2 separate regions of the Homo sapiens genome follow, and region 2 is linked to region 1. The links come from fine-mapping of genetic effects on plasma protein levels. Region 1 holds a variant in brackets. A gene starts in the other region. All regions are shown on their forward strands.

Region 1 (2,912 bases):
TGTGTATGATTTTATCACTTTATTTGACAATCAGTGGTTGGCTCTCACCCACATTGACTGTCTATAGATGTTTGAAAGTGGTCACAGGTACATAGTTAAACCAAAGTATAGAGTTTGTTTGCTGAACCTTCACCCTCATTATGTTTTCTGCACGATAAACATGGATGTGGTACGGCCCTTCCTTTCACCCAGACATTTGTTGAGCCTAGTATTAGTGCGTACATCTGGAGTCCCCATCTCCATCATGGCAGATTTCTGGATCTCTCTTGAGTGCCTGAGGGGTATTCTTCTTGAAGCCCACTCCATGGATGCACCTGTGAATGTTGATGGTGTATCCTCAGGTCACTGCCTCATTGATGGCAGAATGACCCCCCTTTTTCTGGCTACCCTTTTTGCAGGAGTCATTCTGCTGGGCCCAAGTGGGAAGCCATTATATCCTCTATTACCTACCTTTCAGTTTAAGAAAATATTACTGTGATAGGCTGAAAAATGCTCTTCCAAAGCTACCAGGTCCTCATCTCTGAAGCCTGGAAATGTTCAGTTTGGAAAAAATGTCATAGCAGATATGATTGAGTTAAGGCTTTTTTTTTTCCTTTGTGACAGAGTCTCACTCTGATGCCCAGGCTGGAGTGCAGTGGTGCAGTGATGCAGTGGCTCACTGCAACCTCCGCCTCCTGGGTTCAAGCAATTCTCCTGCCTCAGCCTCCTGAGTAGCTGGGATTACAGGCGCGTGCCACCAAGCCCAGCTAATTTTTGTATTTTTAGTAGAGATGGGGTTTCGCAATGTTGGCCAGGCTGGTCTCAAACTTCTGACCTCAAGTGATCCACCTGCCTCAGACTCCTAAAGTTCTGGGATTACAGGCGTGAGCCACCGCACACAGCCGAGTTAGACTTTTGAAGTAGGGAGATTATCCTGGATTATCCAGGTGGGCCCTAAATGTAATTACATGTATTCTTTTGGAGACAGGCAGAAGATTTCACACTTGACACACACACAAACACACACACACACACACACACACACACACACACAGGCCCTGTGAAGACAAGCAGATTTGAAGATTGGAGTGTTGTGGCCACAAACCAAGGAATGCCAGCAGCCACCAAAATACCAAAAGTTGGAAGAGGTAAGGAACAGATTCTCCCCTAGAGCCTTCACAGCCCTGCCCACACCTTCATTTCGGCCCAGTGATACTGATTTTGGACTTCTGGCCTCCAGAACTATGAGAGAATACATTTCAGGTGCTTTAAACCACTGAGTTTGTGGTCATTTGCTACAGCAGCCACAGAAACTAATGCAGTTACCCATGCAATGAAAGCCACTGGTGTTCCTCTACTGAAATGCCGCCCTCTCTCTCCACTCTCCGGAGGGAACCAGGACCTTGAATTTGGTGTTTATTATTTCCTGCATTTCATTTTACTTTATTGCATATTTATGTATTCTGAAATAATGTCGTTTTATATATTTCATACTGTATCCTGTATATTGCTTTTTGCCCAACGTATTTTATAGATTATATATGTTGATACATGTAGCTCTAATTTTCTCTGTAGCATAGTATTCCATGGTGTGTATGCGTACCTGCACATATGTGTGCATGCTACAATTTTTTTTTTTTGAGACAGAGTTTCCCTCTGT[C/T]GCCCAGGCTGGAGTGCAGTGGCGCCATCTTGGCTCACTGCAAACTCCACCTCCCAGATTCCAGTGATTCTCGTGCCTCAGCCTCCCAAGTAGCTGGGATTACAGGTGTGCGCCACCATGCCCAGCTAATTTTTGTATTTTTAGTAGAGACGGGGTTTCACCATGTTGGCCAGGCTGGTCTCAAACTCCTGGCCTCAAGTAAACTGCCCACCTCGGCCTCTCAAAGTGCTGGGATTATAGGCGTGAGCCACTGTACCCAGCCCACAATTTTTAAATCAGTTCTTCTGTTAATGAACATTTAGGTTGTTTTTGGTTTTTCTGTCTTTCAAACAGTGCTGCAGTGAACATTTCCGTATGTATCTTCTTGTGCTTATGTGCAGAAGTGTTTCTAGGATATTTACCAGAGAAGAGAATTACTAGGTCATCCTCAGCTTTACTAGTTTTTGCCAAATTGCTCTGCGAAAGAGCAGATGTGGGTTGGATTTTGGCAGCAGGACATTTCAACAAAAGGAGTGATGTGTACTAAAGGTACAGACAGGGGAGGCATGGGAAGTGGTCATTAGTTTTCTTTGAAAAAGCAGTGGTTCTCAGTCAAGTCAGGGAAGCAGGTTTGAATCACCCTGGAGAATGTTTTGCAACCTTTTGCCCTCTGTCTCCCCATCCTGGGATGTCTTCCCAAGGAACCAATATATTTCCCCCCCGGGTAATTGCGACATGCTTTGGTTGAAAACCAAAAATGGCTGCCTGAGAAGGAGCCACGGGAGAAGAGGCAGGCAAGTTGGGTGGCGAGGACTGAGATACCCAGCCAGGAGGATGCATGTCAATCAGGGGTCACAGAGAGTCTCTAAGCAGAAGCTGAGCACCTTCCCCTCTACAGATACCCAGAGGCAGCATTAGGGCTACAGCACCCGTAGACCAAGAGCTCTGGGGTAGAGTTTAACCACATGTATTACGCTCAGCTTTGATAGCTCTTTTCTCAAGTCTTCCAACCTTGTTCACTGAGAGAGTCACTTTATAATGCAATGAGCTGTTGTTCCTCCTGGATCTCTGGGTGTACTGAAGATGCTGAAGGTTGGCTTTTTAATATTTTAATTATAATTAGCATACTAGGAAAACTCCGGGGAATAAAATACAGTACTTTCTTGCATTTATAGACTATAATATGGAATATGAGTAAAATATACATATCCCCAAGGAACCAGATATACATCAAAATAATTAAGTGGGGGCATAGCTTGGGGGTAGAACATTTGACTGCAAAATAACATATACA
Region 2 (2,912 bases), not on the chromosome of region 1:
GATAAGGTGTGTGAAGACGCTGTGCAAATTGTACAGCGCTCTGCTTAAGGAGAACCTCGATCTTCATCTCGCCCCCAGAACTTCCCTCCCTTGAAAATAAAACTCCCACCTGAATGTAAAGCCCAGGAGGGGGTTTTGTTAACCGCACTTATTCCCAAAGCATAAAGGAATGTCTAATAGTTTTGCAAATGCTTCCATGAATAATTGTTGAATGAGTTCATGTACAACATACACACTTGAGGAAAACTGGTCTGGTTGGGAACATCTGGGAATTCTCCTTGCTTTTCTGGTAGGGAAGCGACCGACCAAACATTTATTGGGCACTACTCCTTGCCAAGCCTTCTAGGCTTTGGCAGGCCAATGGGGAGCCGGGGGGAGGGCTGGCAAACCTGTTAGTTGTTCAAGGACACAAAGGGGGCTTTATAAGATGGCCTAATCAGAGCCCTTAAACGTGGGTTCGCAAAATGGTTCATTCCCGCCCTTTCACCCACCCCCTCCCACCCCAGACGCAAAGCATATGTTAAAAACACTTAAGTGCATACAGAAGGCGCTTGGCTCAGGGTACACAGGGCAAGAAGCCTCGGATCCCAGCTCCCTTTAACACACATTTTTTCAACGCCGTTCTGGACCGAGACTGTCCGGGGCACTGGGTGCTGCAGGACCCGGCTCCCAGTACTCCTAGCAGAAGACCCTCTGATGAAATGGCCCATGACAAAATGACCACCATAACCGTTCCTTCAGTAAGCCAGGTAGACGTGCTCACAGCTTGCTGGGAAGTCTTCTTTCGGAGATTTCTGCAGTTTTCTCCTTCACCTTACAGCCTAACAAAGGGTGGGCCGGGGGTCGGCTAGGACAGAAAGCAGCGGGAAAAGCGGCTCCACGTGTTCCATCTCTGGCCTCGGCCTTCAGCCCCCAGGTTCGGTAACCACTGGGCGTGGCGAGTCCGGGTAACCCGCAGTCCCTCGCGCCCGTCCAGGTGCGGGTTGCTCCGGTAGCCGGACTCCCTTTTCCTATATACTTTCCTTTTGAGCTTTTGCTAAAATCTGGAGACGTGGAATCCACCCGCGGAAACTCCGAGCCCCTCCGACTGAGCATGCGCCATCGCCAGGCGGCTTTTGGTCACAGGCTCCCGAGTTCTCCTAGCTGGGGCTGCGGAGCTGGGGGGAGGGAAGAGAGGAAAGGGGAGGGGGTGCCTGGAGAGGCGGAGGCTCGCGCGCCTGCGCATCCAGCTCCAGGGACCCTAGGTTTTCTATGGGATTCCCAATCTGCAGCAGAGATTTACCCGAGCGTGTTGCGGCAGCGGCTGGGCTTGCAAGGCGCGATCCAAGAGGGATTTAAGCAGCCCAGAGCTCCAGAGAAAAAGAGAGCGAGAGAGAACCACACACAGAGACGGCTTAAGCGTTTACCCGAATTAAATATATATTTTTAAAAAGAACTGTTGAGTTTTATCATTTTCGTTAAGTGACCGTGCGCAGCGCTGTAACTGTAAGTGGAAAATACAATCTTCGTTGCATTTCTGCATGTGTAGTGCAACCAACTGTCAGAGAAATGCTTTGGCTATTGTCACATACTTTGCTTTGCATAGATGCGTCTAAATGCATGGGGACAATTTCCTTGCTTAATGCTGGCGATCTGAATGTGCTCTTAGTCCATGGGGGATCTTTTGGAATATTGGGGGTGGGGGAAGGGGGAGTGTTTATATGCGGCGTGTTTGGGGGATTGTCTTAGACTAGATTTAAGACAGGTGAAACTGAGATGCTTTCTTAGTTTGTCTTAGACAGATTTAAGTAGCTAATTGACCGATTGTGAAGTTTTCCGGTTGCTGATAAAACTATTGAGCGGGTACAGTCGAGTAGCAACCTGTCATCCGTGGGATTGGTGCACCATTTTTCTCACTGTGGAAGGGCAGCAAAGGTGTTTGCTAAGTAAAACTGAGTGGATGAGATTGGTATGGAAATCATGGTTGATCTCTGAGCGGGATGTTAGTGTTTAAGATCCACGGAGTCAGGCGCAAAATGAGCACATTTCTCTCAGTATTCAGAAATGAGTAGATAATTTTTTTCGTCTTTGATTTTTGTCACAATGGTGAATGGGCAGAAAAGGGAAAGATGCTCTACTGCACTGTCGATTTTGAACGGAGTCACAGGCTCGGTCGCTGAATGGGGACTGTCAGACCCAAACTAGTTACCTGCCTTTGCATTCCGTGTTCGCCATCCGGAATCTGGGGTTAAAAAATGTAAATCAAGGTGTGTTACATTTGGTAGTATTTCTTTAAAGGATAAAAGGTCGTTTTGTGTTTTGAGTTAAAATGGGTTGTTCCTTGCCCAGAAACTGGAAGAAGGGTCTTTGCAAGGTCAAACCCCGGGTGGAAATCAGAATGATGAATACCCTCAGGGGTACAAGAATGTGTACGTGGAAGGAGCGAGGAGAGGCTGATGCTCCCTGCATGGTGGAAATGATGAGTGCTCCGCATTGCCTGATCAGTGCCCTGTGAGATGCCAGAGTGGGAATCCATTTTTCTAGAGTTGCCCTCCTGTCCGTATTTTGGAAACTAAAATAAAATAGAATTGTTGGTGGTTGTGGAGAACACTAAGTACATACTATTTGTGTATCACTTTCCAGTTGAAGGCAAGAAAAGCTGGGGAGTTTTATTTCTACATATTAATATTTATTTTAATTTCTAAAGGAATTTCAGGTTGAGACAAATTTAAAATGAAACTCTTGTGAAAACACATTTTACCCCCACTATCATTTAAACTGCCTACGTGTGTTTGTGTGTGTGTGGTGGGGGGGAGTAGGGGGTGATCCTACATCATTGAACAACTTACTTTTGAATGCACTCTCATTAAGCCTTGGGTATTTAATAACCCCAGAAAATGCTGCACTGAAGCAGGTTGGCAGAATGGGCATGA

Direction of the effects. Positions count from the first base shown, and alleles are read on the strand shown. Strength reflects both the effect of a copy and how common the allele is.
With allele C in place of T in region 1, the plasma level of the protein whose gene starts at base 1,263 in region 2 is lower (strong association).

Evidence for each region. PIP is the chance, under the fine-mapping model, that this variant and not a neighbour inherited with it causes the effect. The UK Biobank Pharma Proteomics Project read protein levels with antibody pairs (Olink). The fine-mapping took linkage between variants from a reference panel, not from the people measured, so its PIPs are less certain.
Region 2: it holds the start of VSNL1, and the variant in region 1 is fine-mapped to the plasma level of the VSNL1 protein (UK Biobank, PIP above 0.99).

What each region holds. Positions count from the first base shown.
Region 1 is chr3:195,561,176-195,564,087 of GRCh38, forward strand. It overlaps the pseudogene RPL31P64. Among named protein-coding and RNA genes, the nearest start is that of PPP1R2, 19 kb to the left of the region's middle. The variant C/T (reference allele first, on the strand shown) is at 1,640.
Region 2 is chr2:17,539,434-17,542,345 of GRCh38, forward strand. VSNL1 (visinin like 1) reads left to right here and starts at 1,263. Exons shown (of 4, transcript NM_003385.5): 1 at 1,263-1,485.